Linked DNA regions of Homo sapiens: regions 1, 2, 3 and 5 are each linked to region 4. Evidence: fine-mapped expression QTL. A gene starts in region 4. Each other region holds a variant in brackets. All regions are shown on one strand. Distances are between the middles of the regions.

Region 1 (6,620 bases), 220 kb before region 4:
GAGAGATCTTTAAAAAGTTAATAAATAAAGCTAAAGTTCTTCAGTGCATACAATCCAGAAGGGGAATTGGTTCTGTATGTTGATGGTGGAAAGGAACACAGCACTGTGTAGAATTTGGAGCCAAGACCTAAAGAAGCAAAGCCTATAAAATTCATCTTTGGCTCCAGGCATAAAATGGTCTCTCAAAGTTTTAGGGTTTTGTTTGTGTGTTTTGCTTTTTGAATGACTACTCTTTGAAAATTCTTCTCTAAGAGAGAGAAAACTTAATATAAAAATTCCAGATTAGGTGTTGGGGACTCATTTGTTATCTTCTCTTGTGCACATACATCTCGAAGGAAGAAGTCTGCAATAAAAATACAAAGTTCAGCACAATTAATGTCAGCAGTTTTTCTCCACCGTAGGATTAATAAAGGATCCAGGTAAGTGGTTCTCAAAGTGTGGTCCCCAGGTGAGGTCCCCAGGTGTGATCCCCAGGTGAGGTCCCCAGGTGAGGTCCCCAGGTGAGGTGACCGTCCCACTTTGCCCTAGGGCTGCTCCAGCTTCAACGCTGAAAGTCCCAGGTCACAGGAACCCTCCTTTGCCCCTGGCAGACTGAGGGGCTATCACCCTATTCTGGGACCAACAGTAAAGCATCACTTGGGAAGTGGATGAAGTGTGAATTCTGGGCCCCACCATAGACCTGCTTAACAGGATCTCTGGCGGTTAGGGTTAGGGTCAGGTCTGCTGGGCAGTGATAATGCAGCTAAGGGCGGGGTCCTGGGTCCAGGTTTAATCTGGGAAGGGTCTGGGAGGGACTGGGTTTAACAGAAGCACCCAGGTGCCAAGCACTGGGGCAGAGCTGGAATCCCGTCAGACGGTGGGCAGACCTGCAGCCGACCACCACTCTCTGCCGAGGGGAGGGGTCCTGACAGTGCCGTGTCCACCAGACTCGAGAGTGGGGAGTCTGGTAGCTCCAGGGGAAGACTTTCCAGGATTCTCCTTTCACTTCAGGTGTGGCTAGTGTTTCCAGCAGGTGGCACATGCTAATTGTCCCTGTTGGAAAATTCTGAGTCAAGCCAGTGGTTGAAGTGGGTCCTGGAATACCAGGTGTGATATATTTGCAAAACACTTGTGGTCAAATTATGCCATCAGCAGTGGTGAAGGGAAACTTGTAATTGTAATAAATTAGCACTTGAGTGTAGTCCCATCATTGGAAAGAGCATGGCCTTCAGCCCCAGTAACACTGAGATTGGTAAGCAGATGTCTTTTGAGGAAAAAAAATAAAACAGTATTCTGAAATCCAACACCTGTTTATTTAATCACATTTTCACATTTACTGTGCTTTCTAGATGATTTGCCAAGGTTGTCTGGTCCTGGTAAAAAATGTATGAAATGCCTCCACCTGAACAGAGAAGAAAATGTGATCCCAATGAGAACTGTCTGCAGCATCACACTCACCGCTGTGTCTGAGAACAGGATTTTCCATTTCGGCAGTGGATCTAAACCTGATGCCCAGGACCTGTTTTAAGCAGTGAATCAAAGATCACAGAAGTTAAAGTTTGGCAAGTTTTCGACGTCAAGGAGATGGAAAGCCTAAAATCAGTTTCTGAACCACTAAATTAGAGGGAACAGCCTTGCTCGTGAATTTTCCAGAATTCCACAAACAATTAAGAAGACCCAGGGTAGGAAGCACATACAATTTGTTTTCTTTGATGGTTAAGTTGGTTTAAGGCACAGAGTTGAGAAGACAGGTAAGAAGAAGCAACTGTTCAAGCCCCAAGGAGAACCCAGAACCGACCCAGCCCCCGAGGAGAACCCAGAACCGACCCAGCCCCCGAGGAGATCCCAGAACCGACCCAGCCCCCGAGGAGAACCCACAACCGACCCAGCCCCCGTGGAGATCCCAGAACCGACCCAGCCCCCGAGGAGATCCCAGAACCGACCCAGCCCCCGAGGAGATCCCAGAACCGACTCAGCCCCCACGGAGATCCCAGAACCGACCCAGCCTCCGAGGAGAATCCAGGATCCACCCAGCCCCCACGGAGATCCCAGGATCTCCTTGTTTTTTAATCGAAAACTTGTTTTTCTCTCCTGTTTTTAATTTCTTAAGGAGAAAATTTGAGACGAAGACAATGGCCACCTAAATTTGTGTGATACCCTGTTATTTCACAGTTGCCTTACAAGAATAACCGTGTCTCATTTGTCACTTTCTGCTACCTGAGAAACCACTCTGTATGATGTTGACGTGTGACCATGTCCAGGTGCAGCTGACGTAGTCTCAGAGACGTGTCTTTGGAAAAAACAGTACACAACAAATGATTATGAGCCATTCTGAGCATGGTGGTGAGCTGCAGCCAGCAGAACACACCCAGCCCTGCCAGCAAAGGAAGCTTGGTCAACCACAGCAGCCTGTATGGGCTGCGATGGAAACCATGTTGAGTCCCCACCTCACAGTTGAGAAAAGCAACATAATTTCACATGATGCACTAGCCGTGGCGCCTGCTACACACGAGCTCTGGAAACCTCAGCTGCCCTCATCGCTTCCTGCCATTCTGGAAGAAAAGTTAAAATTGGAATTAGCAGTAACACGGGCCTCTCAGAGTTTTGAATAAATAGTGCTGTAACTCATCCTAGTAACTTAACTGGGAACCAGGCATCTCAGCTGGTGTTGCAAAGTCACGCAGGGCTGGGGATCCCCGAGCCCCCTGGGTGAGCTGGGTCTTGCCTATTAGCTCTGTAGACAAGGCAGGTTCCAAAGGGCAGTGCGAATGTGCTTCGAGTTTTACAAAATTCTGTGAGTTCAAAGCCTTTGGATATCTGAGTCTGTCTTAAGAGAGCCTCAAGCTAATATTCACACAATTGTGTGTCTC[G/A]GTATACAGTTTAAATGCTGGCATTTAGCTTAGAGAACAAAGAAAACGTGAAGTCAAAGAAGGAACAAAAGCATTATATCCTATCAAAAAATAACCAAATACTATTCAACCATTTTGAAAATTTCTGATTCTGGCATTGGGGAAAGTGGCTGCAGATGACGGTGATGCATGCCCAGCAAGTGGAGGAGGCCGGGGGCAGAATGTTGCCCAGGTGCTGGGTCGGTTCTGGGTTCTCCGTGGGGGCTGGGTCGGTTGTGGGATCTCCTCGGGGGCTGGGTCGGTTCTGGGGTCTCCTCGGGGGCTGGGTCGGTTGTGGGATCTCCTCGGGGGCTGGGTCGGTTCTGGGGTCTCCTCGGGGGCTGGGTCGGTTGTGGGATCTCCTCGGGGGCTGGGTCGGTTGTGGGATCTCCTCGGGGGCTGGGTCGGTTCTGGGATCTCCTCGGGGGCTGGGTCGGTTCTGGGGTCTCCTCGGGGGCTGGGTCGGTTGTGGGATCTCCTCGGGGGCTGGGTCGGTTCTGGGATCTCCTCGGGGGCTGGGTCGGTTCTGGGGTCTCCTCGGGGGCTGGGTCGGTTCTGGGGTCTCCTCGGGGGCTGGGTCGGTTCTGGGATCTCCTCGGGGGCTGGGTCGGTTGTGGGATCTCATTGGGGGCTGGGTCGGTTCTGGGATCTCCTCGGGGGCTGGGTCGGTTCTGGGTTCTCCTCGGGGGCTGGGTCGGTTCTGGGATCTCCTCGGGGGCTGGGTCGGTTCTGGGTTCTCCTCGGGGGCTGGGTCGGTTCTGGGTTCTCCTCGGGGGCTGGGTCGGTTCTGGATTCTCCTTGGGGGCTGGGTCGGTTCAGGATTCTCCTTGGGGCTTGAACAGTTGCTTCTTCTTGCCTGTCTTCTCAACTCTGTGCCTTAAACCAACTTAACCATCAAAGAAAACAAATTGTATGTGCTTCCTACCCTGGGTCTTCTTAATTGTTTGTGGAATTCTGGAAAATTCGCGAGCAAGGCTGTTCCCTCTAATTTAGTGGTTCAGAAACTGATTTTAGGCTTTCCATCTCCTTGACGTCGAAAACTTGCCAAACTTTAACTTCTGTGATCTTTGATTCACTGCTTAAAACAGGTCCTGGGCATCAGGTTTAGATCCACTGCCGAAATGGAAAATCCTGTTCTCAGACACAGCGGTGAGTGTGATGCTGCAGACAGTTCTCATTGGGATCCACCTTGTGATTCTCATTTGGGTCTAATAGCCTTTCTTTTTTTCAGTTCCTTGTTATTAAGTTGCTGTTTGAATGGGCGTGTGGGTAATCTCTGTGTGTGTGTGTTCGTGTGTGTGCAAGGGAGTTCACGCGGGGGGATGTCAGGCCGGCACACAGGAATGGAAAGGCTGCCCACTGGTCTCTGGAGCTGTTGAGGCTTCAGAGCGTCTCTTCCACTGCCGCCCTCCAGGGGCTCCCTCGCAGAGAGCGGAAGGCAAGGGCTGCCTGGGCTGCCATGGGCCATGGCTGAGACTGAGAAGTCTTTCCAGGATGGTAAGTAAAGCAGGTGGGCACGGGGTAGGTGGGCACAGGTGAGCTGACAGCCAGCAGCCCAGGGAGCCCCGAAGTTCAGTCCATATTCTGTCTTCAGATTTGGATTCACTCCCCGTGGTTTAGAAACAGTGCTGTTTGAGGTTAAAAACAAAACAAACAAAAAGCCTGATTTTCAATTCTCAGAATGGATGAGAAGAGTGCCCTATGGAGACTGGACTGTTTTTTCTTCTTAAGTGAATAGCTCAAGGGGAACGTCCAGGTGCCGGCCTTCGGGGGTCTCTGCGCCACTGGAGCGGGGGCTGTTGGGCCTGCGGAGATGCGCGAGTTGGAGTCTGAGGGTGGGTGTGGGTTCCCACCACCACGGGCACCACCATTTCTATCACCAGTTGGAGAAGTCCGTTTACCTGTGGAGCAGATTCTCGAGTATTGGAGGAAACACTGTGGAAGCATCGACCGTTGAATGCAGATTCGTGTTCTGTTTATTACTGCTAAGTGAGATGCAATTAGGAATGAGATATCTTCACCCCACTGAGTCTGGGAGGGTCAATGAGCAGTCACATCAGTGAGCAGGCCAGGTGGTGACGCGTGTTACGTGCGTGTTACTCAGGAAAATAAAGCAGGGCAGATGCAGGTAAGGGCCAGTTATTTGACGTTGTGTAGTCGAGGAAATCTCGCTCGCAGGTGTCCTCAGAGAGAAGCAACACACAGATCCCTGGGGACAGAGCATTGCTGCAGAGGGAATTCCTGCAGAGAGCAAGACAGAGCATTCCTACAGGGGGAATGTGCAAAGGCCCCGGGAAGGGAGAGACCCGTTCTGCTGAAGGGAAAGCAAGAAGGCAGAGGGTTGGAGCCAGGAGGCCTGGAGCTGCTGGGTGACGCCTGAGCCCCCGGGCTCCTGTGTGCACGATGGCGCTTTGTGATTTGTGCCAAGGGGGACAGGAGGACAGTCCAGGGTTTTGGCAGAGAAGTGACATGGCTCCTTGTAAATCTTCACAGGACCAGGATAACATCACAACAGGTAGTTAATTCACCACCACACATTTATAGTCTGAGGTCCTTGGACTGTATGAGCTACAACAATGACAGATAATCCAGGTGAGTGCCTCACAAACCCCTGCTGCCCCAGCTCCCACCCGTGGCATTTAGGCCAAGAAGCCCCATTGGTCCCCAGGGACTCTCCAGCCCCTGCCCTCCTTCCTCCTGCCCGGACCAGCCCATCTGTCACAGGGGGCTCTCTAGCCACCTGCCTCTCTTCCTCTCTGAAGGCTGCATGGAGCTGCTTGTCTTTGTAGCTGAACACTCAGGCCCCTGCTTGGTCATCCAGCCAGTCATGGTGGGAGTGGCAAGAGGAGAGCCTGAGATGATGAGGGGTCAGTGATGCTGTCTTCCGGTCCATGGCTCATTAGAGATACCCTGTAATTTGCAGTGTTCTTTCTCCAGGAGGAACAGAGCCCCTCTAATTATATCTGCTCTTATTGAAACCTGAAAAATGCAGGCAGAGTGATAAGAGAATGAAACTGTGGCTGCACCTTCCTGGCCTCCCTTCAAATATGTAAAGGGTCCTAAGGCGAGCCCTGGCTGGGGGGTCTTGAGCCCATGGCTTCTCCCTCGGTGCCTTTCACAGGTGGTCCAGGGCAAACGCTTGGTGCCCATTCAATTAAAATAGCGAAGGAGATGAGCTACAGCTTCTGCAAGGACGGCGTGGGGCTGTAGCCTCTAGGGCCTTAGTTAGAACCACATGAAAACACGAATGCTGGGGAGTAAAATTGCAGGAAATGAATGCAGGAACAGACATGGCTCGGATGTAGCAGAGGTGGGATCGGGAGTGATTTCGTTCCAATTCCCCGATGCTGCTTTCATAGCTGTTGGGGTTGAGTTTGAGGTGTTGTAGTTGAACCTGTGTTGTAAGGGCGGAAAGCCTCATCAGCCCAGTGACTGCACAGCCACGCGGAAGCCTCCCCAGTCAGAGGCGGCCTTGGAGGGCAGCTCGCTGTTCTCACTCAGTCCTGATTCTCGGCTCTCTCCTGACTCCCCAAGGTTTCTTCAACCAATTTGAAAGGGGCAAATAGGAAGCTCTGAAGGACAAGGCCCCACAAAGACCCCACACCCTGCAAATCCCCCAGGGGCTGTGCAGGAAGGGCACAGCGAGGCCCCCAGGAATCAGCCCAGCCTCTGTGCCTTGGGTCCTGGACCTGGGTGGGCGAGAGTCCACGTGCCCGGAGCCAGAACCTGTCCCCAGCCCTTGACAGAGCCACA
Region 2 (4,000 bases), 36 kb before region 4:
AAACATTATCACCATCATCATTAATATCACCATCATTATCACATCACCACCATCATTCCCATCAGCAGCATCATCATCATCATCACTATCATGACCATCATCACTGTCACCATCATCATCACCATCACCACTATCACTATCACCATCATCGTCACTATTACCATCACCATTATTACCATCATCACCTTCACCATCATCACCACCATTATAATCACCATCACCATCATCATCACCATTATAATCATCACCACCGTCATCATCACCATTAATACCATCACCATCATTATCACATCATCATCATCATCACCATCATTAATACCATCACCATCATCATCATCACCATCATTAATATCATCACCGTCATTATCACATCACCACCATCATTCCCATCACCAGCATCATCATCACCATCACTATCATGACCATCATCACCACCATCACTGTCACCATCATCATCACCATCACCACTATCGCTATCCCCATCATCACCACCATTATAATCACCATCATCATGACCATCATCACCATCATCATCATCACCATCACCACTATCACCGTCACCATTGTCATCATCACCATTATAATCACCATCATCACCATCATCATCATCACCATCATTAATACCATCATCACATCACCACCATCATTCCCATCACCAGCATCATCATCACCATCACTATCATGACCATCATCACCACCATCATCATCATCACCACTATCACTGTCACCATCATCACCAACATTATAATCACCATCACCATCATCATCACCATCATAATCATCATCATTGTCACCATCACCATCGCCATCATCACCATCACCATTACCACCATCATCACCATCACCATCATCACCACCATCACCATCATCACCATCACCATTATCACCATCATCACCTTCACCATCATCACCACCATTATAATTACCATCATCACCATCACCATCATCACCATCACCATCATCACCATCATCACCTTCACCATCATCACCACCATTATAATCACCATCACCATTGTCACCATCATCATCACCATCACCATTATAATCACCATCATCATTGTCACAATCATCATCACTGTCATCATCACCACCATCACCAGTATAGTCACCGTCATCATCACCACCATTATAATCATCATCATCACCATCGTCATCACCATCAACATTATCACCACCATAATCATCATCCTTATCTGTAAGAAGAAGAGGCTGACTTAATGACCTGTCTGGGCACTTCCAACACTAACATCTGGGGTGTGTTCCTCCATGTCTTTGCTGTAGTGAACAGTCATCATTCTGGAAGTTTATTGAAGTTCTTTCTTGGCAAGTTTAAGCTCCTTCCTGGGGGTCAGTTATTTTCCAGACTGTACCTTCTCTCCCTTTTGCCCTCAGAGCCACAGAGAGAGCTGGTTGTTAACCCCCAACAAGGCTATTCTTGGGGCACATGAGTTCTAAGGACTCAAGGAGGGCCAGTCAGTGGCACAGTTGGGCTGACAGGCCAGACCTGGTCTTCAGTCCAGGAGCCAGGCCTCATCAAGGGTGCAGTTCCTTGGTCAGGTTCCCCTAACTGGAAATGTCCAGTCAATAGAGAGCCCTGTCTGATGGGAGGTCATCCAGCCTCTGTGCCCTAGCCTGATCCTCCAGCAGGTCCACAGGCTATGCCTCAGTGCCCGTGGCTGACACCTCCCATCCCTTAAATGTCTCCACTCCCCACAGGTGGTCACCGATGCCAAGAAGGAAGAGAAGCCGTCCCAGATGGATGTGGAAGATCTGTCAGAAGACGAGTGAGTGATGCTTGTGGGCTCACACTAGGTGGGGGTAGGAGGACTTTCCCCCCACCACGGTCTCTGGTGTGCCCACCATGCCTTGTGTGTGGTGGGCAGAGCCGAGCCCAGGCGGTCCCCCCTTCTCCCTGGGCACTGCCGAGGCTCAGCACCTGCCGAGCCTGAGGGACTGAGGGCAGGGAACAGGACATCGGACCTTCGAAGGGCTCAGGGACGAGCTTCACGATGCCCCACCTCACCCCATAACCAGGCCGTGTCTCCTACCCACCAGCCA[G/A]GAAAAGGACCTGATGAGAAGGGGGAAGAGGAGGGAGAGTAGGGAGGAAGGAGGGGGGAGAGGTGATAAGTGCATGGTACTGACTTCTCCTGTTTAGGTTTTAGCTGCAGACTTGGGTCCTGCAGGTAGTGGGAAGCCGTGCATACACGGCTGGTGTCACAGCCAAGCAGGCTTCTCTCACAACAAGCCTCGGGCCCTGGGGCCGGGGCTAGGCAGCCTCCGAAGAGATGATCCGTGTCCCCAGGCTGGATGCTGTGTAGGTCCAGGGAAGCCCCAAGACTCCCCGAGGCCCGAGGCCCTGAAGATGGGTGTGGGGAGAGAAGACACTGGCCCATTGAAGGGGGCCCATGGATCTATAGTGTTTTATTTTAAGCAACACACAAAAATACAAAAAGCAATTGTCCAAATGCCTACCACTCAGAATTAACAGTTTATCAGTATTTTGATTTCTTACAGATTTTTTTAAAGGATGAATTGTTCTATCGGCTTTATAAAACAGTCACATGATACTAAACCTTCTTTCAGCCTGTAATCCCAGCACTTTGGGAGGTTGAGGTGGGCAGATCATGAGGTCAGGAGATCGAGACCATCCTGGCCAACATGGTGAAACCCTGTGTTTACCAAAATACAAAAAATTAGCTGGGCGTGGTGACAGGTGCCTGTAGTTCCAGCTACTAGGGAGGCCGAGGCAGGAGAATCGCTTGAACCCAGGAGGCGGAGGTTGCGGTGAACCGAGATAGCACCACTGCACTCCAGCCTGGGTGACAAGAGCGAAACTCCATCTCAAACAAACAAACAACAGTTACATTAACATTTTAACCAGTCATTTACAATAACGGGAATTATGTGGAATAGCACAACAGAGAGAAATGTTTAAAAATCACCCCAGCTTCCACCTCTTAAAAGCACATGGGAGCACCTGACTTTCGACACTGAGGACAGTGGCTGCAGCTGAGGCTGAGGACAGGGGCCGTGGCTGAGGACAGGGGCAAGGCTGAGGACGGGCGAGGCTGAGGAGAGGGGGCTGTGGCTGAGGACAAGGACTGCGGCTGAGGACAGGGGCCGAGGCTGAGGACAGGGGCGAGGCTGAGGACTGGAGCGAGGGCTGAGGACAGGGGTGAGGCTGAGGACAGGGGCGAGGCTGAGGACAGGGGCCGAGGCTGAGGACGGGCTGAGGCTGAGGACAGGGGTGAAGCTGAGGACAGGGGCCGAGGCTGAGGACAGGGCCGAGGCTGAGGACAGGGGCGAGGCTGAGGACAGGGGCGAGGCTGAGGACGGGAGAGGCTGAGGACGGGCCGAGGCTGAGGACGGGGCGAGGGCTGAGGACAGGGACCGAGGCTGAGGACAGGGGTGAAGCTGAGGACAGGGGCCGAGGCTGAGGACAGGGCCGAGGCTGAGGACAGGGGCGAGGCTGAGGACAGGGGCCGAGGCTGAGGACAGGGGCAAGGCTGAGGACGGGCTGAGGCTGAGGATAGCGGGGAGGCTGAGGACAGGGGCTGCAGCTGTACCTGCCAAGCGGCATCCTTGCCCAGGGCCAGCTTTGAGAGCTGCAGCCCTCGGCCCCCGACTGGTCTGGCTTTGCTGACGGATTGCTGCTGTGATGATGACAGCCCTACCTGCGCTACCTGCTCTCAGATTTTTATGTCTCCAGGGAGAGAGAAAGTCCTCGAGAACATTGCACTCTGCCCCAACTCAGCAGAGTCTCTGCCTCTTTTGACTCCTACCGTAACCAGGTCACACCAGCTTTCACTAGGACATTGGGGTTGTTTTGACTCCTGAGTCTGGGCTTAAAATGGGCAGGTATTTTCCAAGTACAGCTCTATTTTTCTCATCGTTTCCTGATGATGGATTTGGCACTCGGCACACAGCTCGATGGCTGTTTTCTGCCCCAAGCTGGACAATCCTGGGTCGAAATCTCCTGGTCTCAGCCTCCATCCCCCTT
Region 3 (6,620 bases), 240 kb before region 4:
GTTTTTATCATTTTGTGTGGTTAATTAAAGAAAATCTATTTGATGTGCAAACTAGGCCTTGATCACATCTTTACAGCCGGCCCCTTCTCCACTGACACCATCTCATACCTACTGAGCTTAGAAATTCAAAAAAACACAAAACCACTGCCTGCAAGCCCACCCTGCTCACAAGATGGATTCTCTTATAAAGCAAACAAGAGTCCCTCGGCCGTCGGTGTCTGAACAGCCCCTCCCTGGGACCTCATGGTGTCTGACCGCCTGGCTGGCGAAGGCGTCCTTGCTTCCTCAGCCCCACATTGTTTCAGGCCTTGGATGTCCCAGGGAATCACAGAGAGGAGACCACAGACAAGAAGGCACCGGACACTCAACTTCCAGGGCCCTGGAGGCTTCCCAGGAAGGCTGCCTGGGAAGGAGGCCAGGCACCATTCCTGCTCTCTGCTCCAAGCCAGCTGAATAGGGAGGTGATCTGAACGTTCAGTTGGTTTTTGCCAGGAAACCTGGGCAACCCCGATGCTGGGGCAGCCATGCCAAGAGCTCGCAGCCCGTGGTGAGGAGAGGGAGCAGGGGCTGCAGACCCATGCGGGCAGAGAGCACACCAGAGCTGGAGGCTGCCTGGTTCCCTTACTGTCTGCAAAAGCACCACGTCCTGCCCGGGGTCTCCGCCTCGGTTCCTTTTTCATCTGGCCATAGGATGCAGTAAGACTTTCAGAACTGAACAACAACAGCTTTTGTGCTATTCTGAGCAGCTATTTTTTTGTCCCTAGTTACTGGTCCTCAAGTCTGGCCTTAGGCAAAGCTCATGTCATCTGCAGGGGACGGTCCCTCCGGGGCTGGGGCACAGGCTGGAAAGCAGCCAGGCCCTGGCGGAGAACCCATGGGCAGTGCCTGCCAGGAAGGCAGAGGGCAGCTGAGGCTGCAGGCGGGGTCGGGGGCGGCGCAAGGCACAGAAGCCTTTGATGCTCAGACCCGCGTGTGCTGAGCCATCTCAGCAGCCCTTGGAGCCTGGGCTCTGCAGGGTCCCACAAACTAGACAGGATGTGTGTGTGTGCTTCTGAGCCCTGGGGCCTCTGTCCAGGAGACCTGCAAGATGCCCAGTAAGCTCTCCAGCGCACAGAGAGGGGACAGGACCCTAACCCCTCAGCCCACGGCCCCTTGTTGCCATCTTAATGCAGATGCAATTGTAAAATAAATAATCATTTTCTCCATCACAAAAACAAGGAAGCAGTTCATGAGTATTTTTGGCAACATATCCTTCCCTTCAAGAAAAGGAGAAAATTCAATGAAATACAAACTGCACCCTCTCCTCCAACTGAGAAGGAAAATGAAATTGAGAAGAAAGTAGTATTCGTCTGCTTAGTAAAGAACTGCCTTGGCCTTTAGAAGGTCAGATGTCCTAGGTGGGAACTGTCACTGTGACCAGGAGGAGGTGTGGATCCAGGGCTTCATTTGTGGTCCAGCTTGGTGGCTTGGGTCCAATCCAGCGACTGCGGCTCCTCAGTCCATCCCATCTTAAATGCCTCCTGCTGCACCAAGACCTCCTCCCACTTCTCCTCCTCCTCCTTCCCCCAGAATCGCTTATCACGATGGCCACTAACCTGGAGAGAGTGACTCCCAGCAGGTATTCCAGACGGAATCCCTGATTAAAGCTGTGCATGCTGCCAAGCTTCCGCCCGTTTTCACATTTTAACACGCAGTCCTAGGTGGGAGCAGCCTATCACCTAAGAGGCAGAGTTTAGAAGGCCACTGATGAAAAGCGATATTTTGGGTCAAACAATTCTGTGCTGTGGGGAGATGTCCTTTGCGCTGTGGGATCTGGGTGGCACCCCTGGCTTCTAGGATTCTATGGCTGTAGGTGTGCCTCACATCCAGTGTGACAGCTCAAAGAGTTTACAGGCGTTGCTGTCCCCTGGGGAGAGATGGCAGCAAAAATCAACCCCAGTCGAGAACCACTCTGTCAATCTAATGGGTGAGAGTTCACACTGAGCACCTAGGTTGGTTCTGAGGGAGATTGTTTTGGGAAGGTCAGCCTATGACATCCGAGCAGATAGTCGTCGCCTTTTATGCGGGTGACATGGAGACCACTTTCTTCACCTTCCAAGCAGGCTAGGAAGGGCCGACTGGCCGGGCAGGCTGTAGTCCTGAGAAAGTTCGAGTGAAGGCACTCTGCGCTTTGCCAGGGTCTGTGCATGGTGAAGGGGCCGTGTGGGTGGGCTGGGGTGAGGAAGACAGGCGTGAGGGTGAGCTGGGAAGCTGGGGGGCAGGTGGCCTGGTGTGCAGTGTGATCGCTCCCACACCACTTGTCCCCAGGATGGTCACTGAGCTCTCAGCACCGAACTGCATGTCTGTTTCCTTGTGGGAACTTAGCGTGCACCCACCAGTAAATTATTTTCAAATTATTTTCTTACTGGGGCTCATCATCTCTTCCATGAATGGGAAGTACGAACTAAGCACATGCCCCAGCGTGCACCCCAGACAGCGACGAGGACGCTTGTGCTGGCAGCAGGGCAGGCGGCAGGAACCCCAGCCAGGAGCCCAGAGACTCGGGGGACTCCAGCTCCGTGTGTCCCTGGGAGGCTGCTTGTCTTTGGACCTCAGCGTCCACATCAGTAAAATGCAGGACGTCACATCATAGCTGTGTCACAAGAGGCGAATAAGACCAGAGGTAGAAGCACTGGGAAAGGACGGTGCTCCTGGGCCTCGGGCTGAATGGTGGAGGAGCTGGGTGCCTCTGGCTTCCATCCTCCTTGAATCAAGTTCTTGCCATAGACAGCACAGGGACATGCACTGTGCCTTCCCGAAGCAGCACCTTTGAATCGGGGG[T/G]CAACTCAACTCTAACTTAGAGAAAGTGGTTGAGATGAGCTGAGATTTACCTTCTTCCATAATAAACTTTACCTTTTTATTCTAATTCTGCCCATTGAAGTCACACTGAAGAAACGACGTCCTTCTGCACACGAGGCCCCTCAGTATTGAAGACGGCAGAGCACACATCCTTCCCCCATCTGCCTCTCCTTAGGCCACGCTTCCTCAACCCCTGTAACTCCTCCTGCGTGGCCAGGGAAGCACTGCTTGGAGTTGTAATTCACAGTGGTGGTCAGAGGCAGGGAGGAGAGGGTCCCTCGCTGGGTGCAGAGTCCGGCGGTGGTGCTCAAACGGTGCATGCCCCCACCCCACCTAAGGGGCTGATGAGCCCCCTTGGTCCCGGCAGCCCGCTCAGTGCCACATGGCCCCCTCGGTCCCCCTGCCGGGTATGGAAGGAGCACTTCTACCAATGGAATGTGAATGGTGTAGAAAGAAACAAAAAAACAAAGCAAGAACCGTCCAGTCCTAGTCTAGGCTCGTGTTTTCAGTAAAGAAACTGTGTCTCCCAGGAGTTGACAGCATCTGCTTGAGGGTGTACAGCTCCGTCGTCACTGGGGAAGGCTGGTGAGGGTGCAGCCTTCCTCACTCCTTATGCTTTTCCCAAACTCTGGGAAAAGCTCATCTCCGCTATCTTTCAGTTACATTCCCATTAGGAACGGGTGTTGTGGACGCCCTGCAGGGTGTCTGCCCAGCTCCCCACGACCCACAACCCACCCAGTCTGCCCTGTTCTTAACACATGACCACTCCTGCCCCTGCCCTCGGCCTGGGCCCAGCTGAATGGATCACGGAAATGATCTCTCTAGAGACTGGAAGTGTTGGGGCGCAGCTGGTTCTCTCGGCATGTGGCTGGCAGAGACACTAGGAGACTGTGGGAGATGAGATGAGGGAGAGGCAGGGGAAATAGCCTTCAGGGGAGAGGACTTTGAGAAGAGGGACCAAGAAGCAGGTCCAGGAGGCCTGATGGGCTCTGGGTGGCTTTTCCAGCCCTGGCTTTAGATCTGCAGGAAGTCCAGCTGCCCTGGGTCTGTGGCAGACTCTGCAGTCTTCCAGGAAACTCCTTTTCTGTCTTGACCTGTGAATGGAGACTGTGTTGGAGGCGTTGGCAGTGAGGTAAAGTCACTCCTGTCTCCCCCTAGTTTTGTACATTGGTAATATTTGTTCTCCTGGAAAAATAGAGACAGGAACCCCCGCCTTCTTTATTTTTATTTATTTATTTATTTTGAGATGGGGTCTCACTCTGTCACCCAGGCTGGAGTGCAGTGGCGCGATCTCCACTCACTGCAACCTCTGCCTCCCGGGTTCAAGCAGTTCTCCTGCCTCAGCCTCCCGAGTAGCTGGGATTACAGGCGCCTGCCATCACGCCCAGCTAATTTTTGTATTTTTAGTAGAGACAGGGTTTCACCATGTTAGCCAGGATAGTCTCAAACTCCTGACCTCAAGTGATCCACCCACCTTGGCCTTCCAAAGTGCTGGGATTACAGGCGTGAGCCACTGTGCCCGGCTAACCCCTGCCTTCTTTAATAGAAAAATTCAGATTTCTAATTGACTGGCCTTCTTTATTTTCTTTCGCCTTCAGAAAAACTGGGAACAATATGGAAGATATTTATGCTCATGCTCCCAGTGGAGGAAATTTTTAATGCCTCGAACTTCCTAGAAGAAGAGCTCTCTGTTGTGCCTTGATGGCCGCATGGCCGTTGCTTGCTAAGACCCAGCATATGCAGTAGCCTCAGACAGAAATCCAGTCGCTCTGGTGAGTAGCCACCCATCGCTCGTCACACTCTCCCGAGACTCTGGCGAGTAGTCACATATCGTGCATCACACTGGTTTTGAAAAAGGACCCGAGCGTCTCTCCTGAGATCCCTGCACTCTTCCCTGGCGGCCGTCACTTCACCAACAGTGAGCTAAGTTCGTGACGCTTGTTTCTCTCAGGACAAAGCAGAGATTTAGGTGTCGGAAAAGCACTGCAGGCACCTTATCCCTGGACCAGAGACTCCCTTGGTCTGCTTTGTTTTTAAAGTAGAAACGGTCATTGTCAAAATGGCCCTCAGGCACAATATTTACACAGCAGAGACCCAGTCGCAGCCGCCTCACACCGAGGTCAAGGGGCAGAGACAGCAGGAACCGTGAGCTCTGGTTCCTGAGCCAGTGTCTCCTCCCTCTACCGAAGCCCTCGTGTTTGCACTCTCTTGACGAAACACCGAGCTATTTAAGTGGGAATAATATAGTTCCTTCTGTAGACAGCACAGCTGATGCCGTGGTCAAGGACAAAAATGTTAAAAGGTTTGGCCTTTAGTCGAGGACGGGCAGTTGTTGCTTTCCTGGAGGTAGCTGGACGCAGGCGGGTTTTCCTCCCGTGAGGAGCACAGCAGCCTGGGCGGGTGAGGAGGAGCCAGGCTGGGCAGGGCGGCTGTGGGTTCTCGACTTCCTCCTCCTATTCCGGGTGCCAGGAGCTGTTTACTGCCCTGTGAGAGCTTCCTGACAGCAGCTTCACTGGCCCCCTTCCAATCGAGTTCCTGCCCTCTCATCTTTGTGGAGACCACGCTGACTATGATTTCCGAAAATTTACTTGTTCTCTGCCAAATCCAAGGATTCCCACTCCCTCCCACCCATACCCTCGCTTTGCTTCTTCCCGGCTCTGCACACTCCCCAACTTGCTTCTGCACCAGGGGCCCCTCTGGGGAAAAGCAGATGTCCCTTGAGCTAAAGAAGTTGCAGTTCACCCAGGCTGGGCTGTCCTGGAGGTTGTGGGCACGTGAGCGTGGGAGGGGTCGTGTGTTCCTCCACGCTCACCCAGAGCAGCCCCCTCTCGGCTTCGTGTAATATGCTGGTGTCATACATACTTAGGTCTGTTGGAAGAAAATGTCCCAGGACTCACATAAATGATAAAAACCGTCGTTCCAGGCAGCCCATGGCTGGCATCTTGAGTGCCAATAACGTGCTCCCTGAAGCTTTCCCTGGTGGACACGAAGCAGCACTTCGCTCGTGATGGCTGATTGAAAACATGCCGGTGAACTGGACGACGGTGAGCACGACCCCCGCCCCCCGCCGCTGTGGCCGCCGCGGGGAAGCCTGCGCGTGAGTGGGACACACTTTGCCCTTCGTATTCTGAGGACAGAGGTTTGGCGTGTTAGCGAGGCCGCCAGAGTTTCACTCACACCGCGAGGCGTTCTCTAGTTAGAGGCGAGAGGGCACGACCGGAAGCGGAAGCCGCGTGACTGGGGGGGCGGCGCCGTGCCCGCCTTGGGAAGCTCGCTTCCGGTGAGCAGAGGGATGGAAGAACGCGTGCGTTTAACGTGGCTTCTGCTGGCTCCGCATGAAACGGGTTTCCGAACAAACCATACTGGGTCCCTGCCACATGTGCGTTGACCTCATTGGAGGCGAACCTTTGCTCAGGAAACTGATTCACCCAGTGGGTGACAATCAGGAGGGGCACGGAGGGCCAACGTGAGCGTTCTCACAAGCTGGGGACGAATGACGAGGCAGTGGAACAATTGCGGGATGAGGGGGGGTCACGGTGAGTCCTGCTTTGAAAATGAGTCAGGAGTAGATACAACATTTGTAAAGATGACCTGCTACCAAAAGGCCTTTGGTAAAATTCAACATCCTTTCATGTTAAAAACTCTCAATAAGCTAGGTATTGATGGAACATACCTCAAAAGAATAAAAGCCATTTATGACAAACCCACAGCCAATAACATACTGAATGGGCAAAAGCTGGAATCGTTCCCTTGAAAACTGGCACAAGACAAGGATGCCCTCT
Region 4 (6,620 bases):
AAATGAATTAATCTACAGTGACAGAAAGGTCAGTGTCATCAGAGGAGCAGGAGGGTGGAGGGACGGGGCAGGGGCCAGCCTGGGGGAGGGGATGTCCATGGTCTCGATTGTGGTCATGGCTCTGTGGGTGCAGCAGAATGTCAAAACTTATCAAACCGTACGTCTTAAATATGGGCATTTAATTGCATGTCAAAAAAATCTAAACAAAGCTGAAAATGGACAAAATACCACAACCAATGACATCTGACCGTAAAGAGATGGATTTAGGTAGAAGGAAGAATTCTTTAACACAGAATATGGGTCTCTGAGGGAAATGTTATCTCGTAATTTTCTCACTTTTGGTGTATTTAAGCTGTAGGACAAGGAGTGAACCCTAACATTTGGTGAGAGTCTGTGAAACACACTAGGAACCCCCATGCTGCTTGCGAGTTACTTCCGAGAAACAGCAGAATGTCACACCCTGTCACCCGCAGGTGCCGTCTGAGGGGCGCTCATCCCCACCAGCCCGAGGGCCTCCCCGCCAAGGGAGGGGTGTACTCCCTTCCACTTGGCGTCTGCTTGTGCATTGCCCCTCCCTGAACTCAAGACCTGAGCCTCTCTCGCCTGGACTATTTGGAAAGTCTACAAATGGAAGAAGGGGTGCTCTCACTGAGTTGTGTCCGCACAAGGGAAACTGTCCAGGAGCCACAGAAGCAACCGCAAAGTGAGCCTCTCAGACGTGGTTAAAGGGAAGCCAGGCAAAAAGACTGCACGCTGTTGGGTTTCATTTACTCAAAACCCTAAAACAGGCAGAATGAGTCATCTGTGGTAAACCAGCATTGGGGTTACCTCTGGGGGCCGGGAGGGAACCCTGGGGTGCCAGTCACGTCTGGCGTCTCGGCCTGGGTGGTGGGGATGGCTCGCCAAGCCTGTTTGTTGCACACGTGGCATGTCAGCAGAAACACGGGGCAAATACACACGTGAACACAAGAACCCCGGGTCCCTCCCTCATCTACCCAGCGACCCTCAGTCACCCCAGCCGGCTCCCTCTCGCCACCCACGGGCTTTCTGTGGAGGCCCCAGCCTGGCCCTGGAGGCCGTGACCCACCCCGCCTCTTGCCTGAGGTCAGCCCAAGAGACCTTCCTGTCTTCGGCCTGGAGAAGGAGCGGCCGCCAGGACCACCCGGGCCTCAGCTCCCTGGGAGGGCCCCTGGAGGACCGGGGCTGCTAAAGTCCACGGGCATCACCGCATCTAATCCAGGCCCTTTGATGTGGGTGATGTTGATACTCCCACTTTACAGGTGGGGAAACCAAGGCTTCAGCTTCCGTGGCCAGGGGATGAATGGGAGTGTGGTCTGGATGGTGGCTCCTGGACCGGAAGCATGATGGGAGCCATGAGGAATGCAGGTTCTTGGGTCCTTCCAGCTCTGCTGGATTGGATGCTCGTGGGGGCTCAGGGTCAACACAACCCCCCAGGACTCTGACCTGGGAAGTGGAGCAGCCTGATTTGGAGGCGAGGACACACCAGGAGGCACCTTGCCCTGTGGCCACTGCACTGAGGCTTGAGAGATCACTAGAGACAGCTCAGCCTCAGTGCTCCCGCGCCCCCGCCTCGGTGCTCCTGCGCCCCCGCCTCGGTGCTCCTGCGCCCCCGCCTCGGTGCTCCTGCGCCCCCACCTCGGTGCTCCTCCACTCCCACCCCGGTGCTCCTTCCACCTCTGCCTCACCCGATGGACTGTGCCTTTGCGTTTCTTGTGCACAAATCCTGCTGAAGTCTGGGCAGCTGTGTGTTTGATGATGGGCTTGTAGGAGAGAAGCATCTGGACTGCGCCGTGCAGATGGCGCTTCTCTCCAGGCACAGTCACATTCCTGGGAGGTTCCTGGAGGCCTCCGAGCCTCGTGCAGACCCAAGGCTGCCTCACCACCATGGCCACAGCCCAGTGCTGGCTGCCGGGCATCAAATCTGCAGAAATGCACGTGGCATAAAAGCACCAGAGACATCCGTCCAGAGCCGAGGGCTCCTCCCTGGCCCAACATTTTGTCCACGTAAGTCCACTTTTTGGCTGCTGCTCCCAGGCCTGGCAAGAACGCAGATCCCCACAGCCTCCTGCTCCCTGGCAGCCTGAGGACAGTGTCGTAGGCCTGGGATCCTCGGGCAGAACTGAATGCAGCTTTTCCATTGGAGGGCGCTGGGCCCACATGGCAATCACAGGTATGGCAGATGAACTCACGGGATGCTCCGGGACTCCAGGGGCCTCAGGAGAAAGGCCCACTGGCAGCGGGTTGCCCAGGGCTCCAGAGGGGGGCTCCAATGTGAACCAGTTGCTTGTGGCACAGCGGGTCACCCAGGATGGCCCTGCGTGGTCAGTGATAACAGGCAGTCACTCACAGCGCGACTTCACCCATGGTCACTCCCGGTGACCAGCACTGCACAGCCTGGGCTTTCGTCCCACATGGCACCTCCCTGTCCAGCCTTGGCCCAAGTGCCTGGGAAACAGACAGGGCACCGTGTGCCTGAACACACTCGGACAGTCGAGGCCCCCAGGAGAAGCAACAGGCAATGACTCGGTCCCCAAGAAGCTGAGCCTGTCCTTGCTGGGGTCTGTCATCTCCTCTTAGCCCCGCCAGGCTCCTGAAGCTGCCACATGTGCAGCGGGAGGTGGGTGGTTTGGGAGCAGAGCGAGGCTCTGGATGGACGGGCTTTACCACCAGCAGCCACCACCACCTGCTCTGCAGGGCCTGGGCCAGCCCTGAGGAGGTGGCAGACGGAAGGAGGGGCAGCACTGCCTCAGGTCTCCTTTACTGTCTTCCAGACATCAGCTCAGGGAGAGTAGGCATGTAGCACTGAGAAACAGGGTTGCTCCCCATGGCTGCCTCTGCTTCCCTGCCGCACAGTGTCTGTACACGGCCTGGGGACCTGCGAGGCCAGACCGCAGGGCAGGGGCCCACGGCTGTGCCAGCTTCTCTCCCAGGCCGTGGCGGTTATTACCTCCTGACTTGGCAGAGCATCCGGCTACTGGAGCCCATTGGTTCCGGCCAGTGCAGTCAGGACTTAGCTTCCCAGCTGTGATCTAAATCCCAGCCTCCCAAAGGCACAGCGCCTAAGTTCTCCCCTGCCAAGCTCACAGCCTTCTCCTTGGCAGGCTGCCCTTTCTCCTGCTGGACCAAACCAAGGAGCACGGTGACCCAGGGACACCACACTCGGTGTCAGCCTCTGAGGCCATGGAGCCACGCAGACCCAGCACAGGATTAGAAACAGACCTTCCCGGGAGGCAGAGAGCCAGGCCTCCTGGTTTATAGCATGACAAGGCAGCACTCAGGAGGACGCATCAATCCTTCTCCATGTCAGCACCTGTGACTGTGACCACTGGTGAGGTGGACATGCTTCTTTTTCCATTTTACAGATGAGGAAACTGAGGCCAAGGGAGGGTCAGCAGCCTGCCCTGGGCTGACTGGTGATGCAGCGAGGGTGGGGTGTGGGAGGGTGGCGGCGGCCCTTGCAGTCCCTGGGAACCTGCACCTCTTCCTGGGCGCTGTTCCCCTCTCTCTCCCAGGACCCTTGGGCCTGGCGTTTCTTCACCTGCGACCATCCAGGAGCTGGACCTGCCCTAGGGCGTCAGTTTCCAGGGAAGCCTCTGGCCTGTGTGTGAGCCTCCCCACCTGCCCGGCCACGGCCTCCACAGGCGCCCTGCGCAGCCCCGCCCCTCCTGGGGCAAAGGCTTTGCGAAGACTTTCTTCTCTGGCTCATCCCTTTAAGGAGGCATAAAAACGAACCCCGGGCCTCACAGGTCCGGAATGCGCCCCCCTCCACGATGGGAGCTTCTTGGCCTTGGCTGTGCAGGGGCCGCGGCTCCTGGGGGTCTGGCCGGATCTGCAGTAGTGCTGAATGAGCTGTGGCCAGGAAGACGCAATGAATAATTGTCACTTAAAAGGATAAACAGAAATTCCATTTCCCTTTTAAATACTTGAACATTTCAAAACATCTGGAGGACGCGATGCTTTTCCTTCCAAGCATCTCCGTGGAGTTTTGTGGGTTACCGCAGAGGATCGGCAGCATTCCTCTCTCAGGGAAAACTGGCCTGAGCATTGCATAACGCAGGCAGACTGCACCCCTCACGTCGCCTGGGGCCACATGCACATGTTTCCAAGAGACTTGCTGGAGAATCTTCCCCGGATCTTGACAAAGTTGGACATGGAAAGCACGTTGGTCCATCCAAGGTCCACAGAGCGACCCTGGCTATGAAAAATCATCCTCCGAGTGGGAGTCTGTCTGCCAGGAGTGAGGTGACACCGCACATGGCCTCAGGAGCTGGAAACGCTGGTGAATTCAGATGCAGCCAAAGCTTCTAACTTAGTCACAGTTATTAATTATTCTTGGTCTTATTGGAGCAGGAACCACTGCCATGCATCAGGCCAGCAAGGCTCACTCCCCACCGTAGGATCCCTGTGTAGACGGTCGCTCCATCAGTGTAGTTGGGTGTGTGGAGCAAGGGACTGGGCTGACCCTACCTTCCAAGCATCGATGTGGCCTTCAGCAGAGCAGGAGGAGATAGCCCAGGACTTGTACTTTGCAGTTGAAGTGCCAGACCTAAGAAATGCAAACCTGAGGATGGAAAGAGGGTGGAGAGGGGGGAGGTGTCTGGATTGGCCGTCCAGAGCAGCCCCAGCTGCAGCAAGTGGAACTTGGCTGGCTGCCTCACAGGCCTGGTGGCAGCGTCCCCAGCGAGGAGCCTGTCCCACATATGAAGGTCCCCATACCCTTAGCCCCTAGCTGAGAGTTTCACTGACCAGAGCTCCCTGAGTCCAGGGCTCCACTCAAGGGACTGCTGTCCCCGTTGGTGAAGAAGGCCTGTTGGGGCCAATGCTTCCCCCCACAGGGAAGCGGAGCTGTATTTTGTCGGACAGAACTTTGCAAGCCTGAAACAGCTGGTGGTGGCCCCAGAGCCAAGATCTGACCTCACTCCAGAGTTGAAGGGCACAGAGAAGGCACAGCTAGAGGCGGCAGGTACCCCTCAAAGCTCTCGGGAGAGGGTACAAAGTGGGACCTCCCAGCACCCTTGGCCTCCAGGCCTCAAAAGCCCTGAGAGGGCTGCATGCAAGGAGACAAAGCTGGAGAAGGATGTGGGAGGCAGGTGGCTAAGAAGACAGGCTGGAAAGGGACGTGGGAGGTAGGTGGCTTTGCTCTAAACAGAATCGTCTCAGTAATGTGACACTGCACATGTATAGGTAGGCTCGCTCATGGGCATAACCCTCTAAAACACACCTTTTATGGAGTGAAATTCACTTAACAGCCATCTTGAAGCATATACTTCGGCGGCATTTGCTGGATTCACGACGTTGTGCAACCTCTGCTTCTCCAGTTTCAGAACATTTCATCCCTCCAGAACAACAGCTCATCCCCATTAAGTAATCACTCCTCATTCCTTCCCCATCCTCTGGAAACCACAGATCTGCTTTCTGTCTCTATGGATTTGTCCGTTTTGGATATTTCATATAAAAGGAATCACGCGGTGTGCGAACGTTTGTGTCTCACTTCTTTCGGTGGAAGCCACATTTCCAAGCCTCATCCCAGTGGTGGCCCCTGAGTCCCCTCAGTGTATCAGTGTCTCACTTCTGTTCACAGATGCATAATATCCCACCCCAGGGACCGGGCACCATTTGTTAATCCCTTCACCTGTGGTGGACACCCGGTCGTCTCCGCCTGCCGAGACCAGCTCGGTCAGGGAGACCCTAACCCAGCGGCGCTAGAGGAATTAAAGACACACACACACACAGAAATACAGAGGTGTGGAGTGGGAAATCGGGGCTGACAGCCTTCAGAGCTGAGAGCCTTGAACAGAGATTTACCCACATATTTATTGACAGCAAGCCAGTGATAAGCATTGTTTTTATAGATTATAGATTTAAAGGCATTCTTTATGGGAAATAAAGGGATGGGCTGGAAATAAAGGGATGGGTTTGGCTGGTTACCTGCAGGAGGAGCATGCCCTTAAGGCACAGATCGCTCACGCTATTGTTTGTGGATTAAGAATGTCTTTAAGCGGTTTTCCGCCCTGAATGGGCCAGGCGTTCCTTGCCCTCATTCCGGTAAACCCACAACCTTCCAGCGTGGGCGTCATGACCATCATGAGCATGTTACAGTGCTGCAGAGATTTTGTTTATGGCCAGTTTTGGGGCCAGTTTATGGCCAGATTTTGGGGGGCCTGTTCCCAACATCCGCCTTCCAGCTGTTACGAAGGACGTAGCTACGAGCGTCTGTGTGCGCGTTTCCGAGGGAACAGGTTTTGTTTCCATGGGGCGTGTGCTTAAGGGGTAAATGCTGAGTCCCATGCTAAGTGTATGCCTAAACTTTTTCAGGAACCACCAAAGTGTTTTCTGCAGCAGCCACACCATTTTACATTCCCACTCCACATTCTCGCATTTTTCTACTTAAAAAAACTCCAGGCAGAGGGAACAGAACAGGTAAAGACCAGAGGCCCAGTAGGCGGTGCTTGGCTGGAGCTCACCAGGGGCTGGACCAGAGGACACGAGAAAGACGGGAGTGGAAGCTGATGCCCAGTGGTGGATGGCAACGAGGGCTCGGGTGGCTGGGCCGTGTCGCTTATGCAGAGGAAACGGAGATGCTTGGAAATGCTTTGCAG
Region 5 (6,620 bases), 20 kb after region 4:
CAGAACAAACAGAAAACAAAAAAAAATGTCAGACTTAGGTCCTAAAATATCAATAATTACATTAAATGTAAATGGTCTAACTGCATTAATTAAAGACAAACATTTGTAGAATGGATTAAAAACTGTGACCTAACTATGTGTTAGTTACAAGAAACTCACTTCAGACATAACAATATAGAAGAGTTGAAAGTTAAAGAATGGAATAAAGTTTATCACGTAAACATTAAGCAAAAAAGAAGCAGAAGTGATTATAGTACATCAGATAAAATAGACGACAGAACAAAGAAAATTGCCAGAGATAGAGAGGGACATTGTATAATGATAAAAGGGTCAATCCACCGAAAAGACATAGGAATGAACTCTAGATATGTATGCTCCTAATAGTGATATACAAAGTATGTGAGGCAAAAATTAATAGAACATAAAGGAGAAATAGACAAGTCTACAATTATAGTTGGAGACTTCAACATGCTTTTCTCTATAATTGATAAAATAACTAGACAGAAAATCAGCAAGAACATAGAACCCAATAACACCATCAACAAATAGAATCTAATCAACATTTACAGAACACCCACTCAACAACACCAGAATATATGCTGTTTCCAAATGCCAATGGAATGTATACTAAGATAGACCATATCCTGGGCCATAAAACGAATCTCAACAGACTTAAAAAGAATTTTAAACAGAGAATGTGTTCTCTGACCACGATAGAATCAAGTTAGAAATCAATAACAGAAAGATAACAAGATGTCCAGATGCTTGAAAACTAAGCAGTACTATTCTAAAGAATCCATGGGTGACAGAGAAAGTCAAAGAAAATCAATGCACTAAACTGAATGACAATAAAAATATAAATCAAAATTTAAGTGATATACCTAATGCAGTACTGACAGGGAAATTTATAATACTAAATACCTATATTAGCAAAGAGAAAAGTTTCAAATCAGTAATCTAAGCTCCCGCCTCCAGAGCCTAGAAAAAGAAAAGCAAAATAATATTTTACCCAAAATAGCAGAAGGAAAGAAATAATAAGGATAAGAACAGAAATCCACAAAGTTGAAAAAAGAACAACAAAAGAGAAAAATCAAGGAAACAAGTAACTTTTTCTTTAAAAAGATCAATAAAATAGACAAATCTGTAGCAAGACTGACCAAAAAGAGAGAAGGCATAAATTATCAATATTAGAAATGAACAGGGGCCATACTAAAGACCCTGCAGACATCAAAGGATATTAAAGGAATACTGCAAACAATTCTATGTAAATATGACTACTTAGATGAAATTGACCAATTCATTAAAAAAAAAAACCCGACAACACATCCAATATGAAATAGATCATTTGAATAGTTTTACAACTATTTAGAAAATTGAATTTGTAATTTAAAAATTGCCAAAAGTGAAATCTCCAGGCCCAGATGGTTTTATTGGAGAATTCTACCAAATGTTTAAAGAATTTATAATTCCACCCAATCTCCTTTGGAAAATAGAAGAGGAAAGAACACTTTCCAACTCATTTTACAAAATTAATATTAATACCAAAACCAGGTAAAGACAATAACAAAAAAGAAAACCATAGACCAATGTCCTTTATTGATATAAAAATCCTTTGTTTTTTGTTTTTTGTTTTTTTTGAGACGGAGTCTCACTCTGTTGCCAGGCTGGAGTGCAGTGGTGTGTTCTCAGCTCACTGCAACCTCCACCTCCCAGGTTCAAGCGATTCTCCTACCTCAGCCTCCCAAGTAGCTGGGATTACAGGCACCTGCCACCACACCCAGCTAATTTTTGTATTTTTAGTAGAGATGGGGTTTCACCACGTTGGCCAGGCTGTTCTCGAATTCCTGACCTAAAGCAATCTGCCCAAAGTGCTGGGATTACAGGTGTGAGCCACTGCGCCTGGCTGAAAAAATGAACATTGATTGATATTATACACCAAAATTAACTCAAAATGAATCATAGCCCTAAATGTAAAACCAAAAACTGTAGAACTTCTAGAAGAAAGTCTCAAAGCCAGCAAATATTTCTTAGCTATGACACAAAAGACCATAAACCATTAAAGAAAAACTTGGTAAATTTAAAATTTTTGCTTTGGGAAAGACACCATTAAGGGAACAATAAAGCAAATCATAGAATAGAGAAAATATTTGCAATACATATATCTAAACTTGTGTCTAAGATAAATAACTCTTATGCATCAATGAGAAGATGGCGAATGACCCAACAAAAGAGTGGGCAAATGATTTAGACAGACATAAAAGATATATGGGTGTTGAATAAGCATATCAGGAAAATGCAAATTAAAACCACAAAGAGACTCCAGTACAAATCCACTAGAAAGGGTGAAATGAAAAAGACTGACTGTAGCTGGTATTAGTGAGGATGTGGAGCAACCAGAAAAGCCAGCACATCGCACGATTTTGGAAGACAGTTTGAAAGTTTCCACCTATCATATGATGCAGCCATTCCCCTTGTAGGTGTTGATCCAGGAGAAGTGGAAAGCCAAAAACTGGAAACCACCTAAATGTTCATCAACAGAAGGTGGATAATCAGAATGCAGTACGTGTAATGCAAAAAATTCAAACAAACACACAGTGACAGCATATCAGCGGCTCCAGGTGTGGGGCCAAGGGGCCCTAGCTGCAGAGAATCCGCAGAGTCTGGAGGGAGGGCTCGGTCGTTCTGTATCTTGGTTGTGGTGGGTCATTGAATTGGACACTCCAAAGGGTTTATTATACATGAATTATACTTCAATAAAGTTGATCTTAAAAACTTAAAAAGAAATTTCTAATCAAATTTTTAGCAAATCACATCTAGCCACATAGTAAAATAATAATACATGAGACCTGTCTGTGTTTATCTTAAGATTGCAAGATTGGTTCAATATTAGAAAATATAGCCATATTTATACATGTTATACATTTAAAACACTAATTCATCACATCAGAAAGGGAAGTAGGTCAAAAAGAGGAAATCCTTTGGTTTTCATCATTATTGCTGAAAAGGCAATGATATAATTTAGCAACCTTACCTGAAAAATAATTACTGATAACCAGAAATAAAAGGAAACTTCCTTAACAAGTTTTTGCTTTTTAAAGTCAGTGGAAAACGCACTTGAATGTGTTCTACGTGCCAGCTTTTATTCACCCTCCTGGCTGTACATCGAAAGCCAT[G/A]AATCTCCCTGCTGAAGACAGGCTGCCTCTCCCTGGAGGCTTCCCATCTGTTTTTGCCCAACACATTTCCACAACCCTTTAGACTTAGAGATAACCAAGAGAGAAGAAAGGTGGGGGAGGAGGAGGAAAGTCTTCTGCATTCCTGGGCCCCACCAGGCCAGCAGATCCTCCCGGTGGGAGCAGAAGTGGGGGTGGGGAGGCTCAAAGAGCAGCACCTGCAGGGGCAGGTGCCGCTGACACCCAGGGAGCCCGACAGGACCCTGCCCTGAGCCCAGCTGTCCCAGAAACCACCTGGACTTCAGCCAAGCGCAGTCCCTGTAAGGTATTTAATGGCATATCCAATCCACGAAGCACCGAAAGGCTCCCTGGCTTCCTCCTACCGGGACTTGAGAACTTCTTCAGCCACAGAAGCAACTCAGGCTCCCCAAATCTATCAAAGAAGACCACAGGGACGTCTGCACCATGCACAAATTGAGAGGAGCCTCCTGACCCTGAACGTGAAACACCCGCACCCTCAGCCCAAAAACAGGGGGCTTCTCCAGCTCAGGGCTGCAGCAGGAGACCGTCTGTAGCCACAGGTCCTCTAGAAGCTCTACCAGTGCAGCAAGAGCAATCAGCAAATAAACAAAGTGTGCAGTATTTGAAAGAAAGAAAAAGAAACTATCACCACCTGCAGATGACACATCCAAGCGTCTCTTTGTGCCAGGCCCTGTATACATTTTCCAGCCACTCTGTCTCATTCCACACACATTTTGCAGAGAATCGGGACCTGCCCAAGGCTTACGTCTTACAGATGCTACTCCTGGAATGCAAACGCAGGTCTGGCTGATTCCAGAGTCAGAACTTCAAGCCAAAAAACTTTCCCAAACACCCCAAAGGATGGACTCAAAGTTAGTAAAATTAAGAGAGGAAATTACAATGATGGTGAGTAAAATCAATATAGAAATCCAATAGCATTCCCAGATGCTAGCAATAACCACCTCGCAAGCAAGAGTGAGGGGGAGCCTGTTCGAAATAACAACCCAGCATCTTAAATACCCAGGACTTGTTAGGCCAAGAGATGAGTACAAAATTTATATTGAAGAAACAACAAATTTTGTAAGGAACTATAGGAAAAAATTGGGTCAGTTGAGAGATGTCAGCATGATACCAAAGGCAGAAACCAGAGATGGGAGGACCGGTAAGTCTGAGAGCATAAAAATATAAAACCCACCATGTACACATTTGTAAAGCAAACAGAAATATAAAACTCCACTAAGGGACATGAAAAAGCAGGTGACTAGATGCAGAAACATGCTGAACACTTAGGAGCCCTTTTATTTGTTGAAATATTTTCAAATAAGTGAAAAAATCAGGTAAAGCAGGAAATTGACAATGATACATATACATCTCAAATGCTTCCTTTTAACTTAAAATATATGAGTCTGAATTGATTTGATTCTTGTGAGAACATCTCTGTGAGGTCTGCTCTTTGAATTTGTTTTTTCCTGGCAAAAAGAAAAGAAATTTTAAAAATCTTATAATTCATCACTCATGGTTTTACGCTTTATTTCCTTAAATTAAGGCAAGAATTAAAGATGCTGTCATGGTGATCTGAGGGCAGAATCCCTTTGAATGTCATCTTCCTCCAATTTTTACAGCTTTCTTGCATATATTTGGTTTTGCAGCATTAAAAACACTTTGCCAGTTTGTCTCCACCAAGCCTTCCTGAGCGCTCTCCCACTCTGCAGTCCTGGCCCATTCCCAAGAGGCAGAGATGCATGCAGAGGGCACCAGCGGGCCTGGCAGCCACCCTTGGCTCTGCTGAGCCTTAGCTGTGGGAGAGGCCACCTGGGCCCCCGGCTCTGGATGTGTGTGGAGGGATGGAGGGTGCAGGCTGGCCTGGCATGTCGGCTATGTGTGGCCAACCAGAAGAGCTTGGCACCACCCTTGACAGGAAAACTCAATATTTGATTCCCTAATTCCTCCCCTAGGAATTTTTCCTAATGGAACTCAGTGCCCACTTCATAGTAGTGGTTATCTCTGCATAAATTTTATTTCCTTCTTTGTGTTTTCCTGTATTTTTCAAATGGTCTGCAATCTACACGGATTACTTTTATAATTAGAAAAAAATTAATTGTAAAAACATTGTTTGAAGTTTAAAGAGTGCCATCTTGGTTACTACTCAAATCTTTATACTGTCCTTACGTTTTTCAGTGTTAACCCAAACTGTGACGCCCATCTCCCTAGGACACATCATAGGAAGGCCTGCTTCAGTGAGAATGCACTCGAGATAGGAAATTACCCGTGTTGATAAGCAGGGCCTGCCTATGTTTTTAAATTTCAGGCTCCCTAATAAAAGGAGTAGGATAAAATGCCAGCATGCTGACATTTCAGGACACTGCCGTCCGGCGGGGGACTGCGCACAGCGCTGCCCACTCTGTTCTGACCCCCACTGTCCTCTGACTCCTCCTGGGTTGTCCTGCCATGTTCCCATGGGGAAGGTGTCACACCCAGTGCCAGTGGGTGATGATCAGAGGGGATATGACAGGGCTCTAGGTGGTACCTGGATGGATATTTTTTAAAATAGTTACTAATTTATTTTAGTGTGCTGTAGAAAAAACCAGGCAGCACAATGGACCTTCAATCTCACACAGATGTATTTAAATGTATTTAAATGTAAACATATTTTACATTTAAATGTATTTAATGAGTCTATTGAAGATGCCCTAGGTAGACAATAATTCAGAGCACATGGATATGGCAAAACTTTGAAATCTGCACACAGAAGGGTGCAATTTGGGAAACTGTCATATGAAATCGCACTTGGGCTGCACATTACGAACACGGCAGGTCGTATCTGTGTGTTTTCATTGCTTTTAAATCTCTTTTAGCAGCTCATTCTGTGCAGGCACCGGTTCTGATTTACTTAAGAAGATGGTCTTAACTTCCCTTTGATGGGTATCGTCATCCTTTCTCTTAGTTGGTTTCAGTATTATTGCAATAGGATATACTGAAGTTTTGAATAATTTATTAAACGAATCTTTACTTCCTAGATACAACTATCTTGACTTTTTTCTAAGTACTACACTTTTGAAGTAAAATAAAGCCTCACCTCAACAACAGAAGTGGGGTCCAGAACATCCCGTGGGTAGGATGTGGGAGCTTTCCTGCAAGGTCGAGTGGCCCCTGCTGGGACCCTACCTCTGGCTTAAACTGTGACGGAAAGATTCTGGGTATTGTGGTTGCCTGGAGCTTCCACGATTCAGCAAGGATTCCAGGACTGTCCTGGGGAGTAGCTGCCGTTTAATTAGCCTGACAGAGAGATCGCTCCTGGAGAAGCCTGTAGACGCAGGACTCCTGCCTTGTTGAAGGATCAGATGTAGCAAGTGAAGAGGGAAGGTGAGGAGGCTGCCAGGCAGCCGGTCAGTGGGTGCCGCTTAAGAGAAAGTGTTGGCCAGGACTGCA

Alleles and levels. Positions count from the first base shown, and alleles are read on the strand shown. Sizes are in standard deviations (SD) of each study's normalised expression. Not every link is listed here.
With allele G in place of A in region 5, the expression in fibroblasts of the gene that starts at base 3,021 in region 4 is lower (small effect, 0.23 SD a copy in GTEx).

Evidence for each region. PIP is the estimated chance that this variant, and not a neighbour inherited with it, causes the effect.
Region 1: its variant is the best candidate, but not a certain one, in a credible set for the expression of SWINGN in whole blood (INTERVAL, PIP 0.54).
Region 2: its variant is the best candidate, but not a certain one, in a credible set for the expression of SWINGN in blood mononuclear cells (TOPMed, PIP 0.63).
Region 3: its variant is the best candidate, but not a certain one, in a credible set for the expression of SWINGN in whole blood (TOPMed, PIP 0.56).
Region 5: its variant is the best candidate, but not a certain one, in a credible set for the expression of SWINGN in fibroblasts (GTEx, PIP 0.63).

Annotation. Positions count from the first base shown.
Region 1 is chr13:114,144,432-114,151,051 of GRCh38, reverse strand. No RefSeq gene overlaps it. Among named protein-coding and RNA genes, the nearest start is that of RASA3, 15 kb to the right of the region's middle. RefSeq lists enhancers at 1-255, 2,163-2,342, 2,673-2,732. The variant G/A (reference allele first, on the strand shown) is at 2,850.
Region 2 is chr13:113,962,711-113,966,710 of GRCh38, reverse strand. It overlaps C13orf46 (chromosome 13 open reading frame 46), which reads left to right. Exons shown (of 7, transcript NM_001365455.2): 6 at 1,717-1,784. Among named protein-coding and RNA genes, the nearest start is that of C13orf46, 9.4 kb to the left of the region's middle. The variant G/A (reference allele first, on the strand shown) is at 2,059.
Region 3 is chr13:114,160,783-114,167,402 of GRCh38, reverse strand. No RefSeq gene overlaps it. Among named protein-coding and RNA genes, the nearest start is that of CFAP97D2, 15 kb to the left of the region's middle. RefSeq lists an enhancer at 4,751-5,651. The variant T/G (reference allele first, on the strand shown) is at 2,821.
Region 4 is chr13:113,925,392-113,932,011 of GRCh38, reverse strand. SWINGN (SWI/SNF complex interacting GAS6 enhancer non-coding RNA) reads left to right here and starts at 3,021. Exons shown (of 1, transcript NR_047495.1): 1 at 3,021-5,498. It also overlaps a transcript of C13orf46 not described here. RefSeq lists an enhancer at 1,006-1,075.
Region 5 is chr13:113,905,109-113,911,728 of GRCh38, reverse strand. The region is part of intron 3 of LINC00452 (long intergenic non-protein coding RNA 452); the gene reads right to left. Among named protein-coding and RNA genes, the nearest start is that of LINC00452, 13 kb to the right of the region's middle. The variant G/A (reference allele first, on the strand shown) is at 3,174.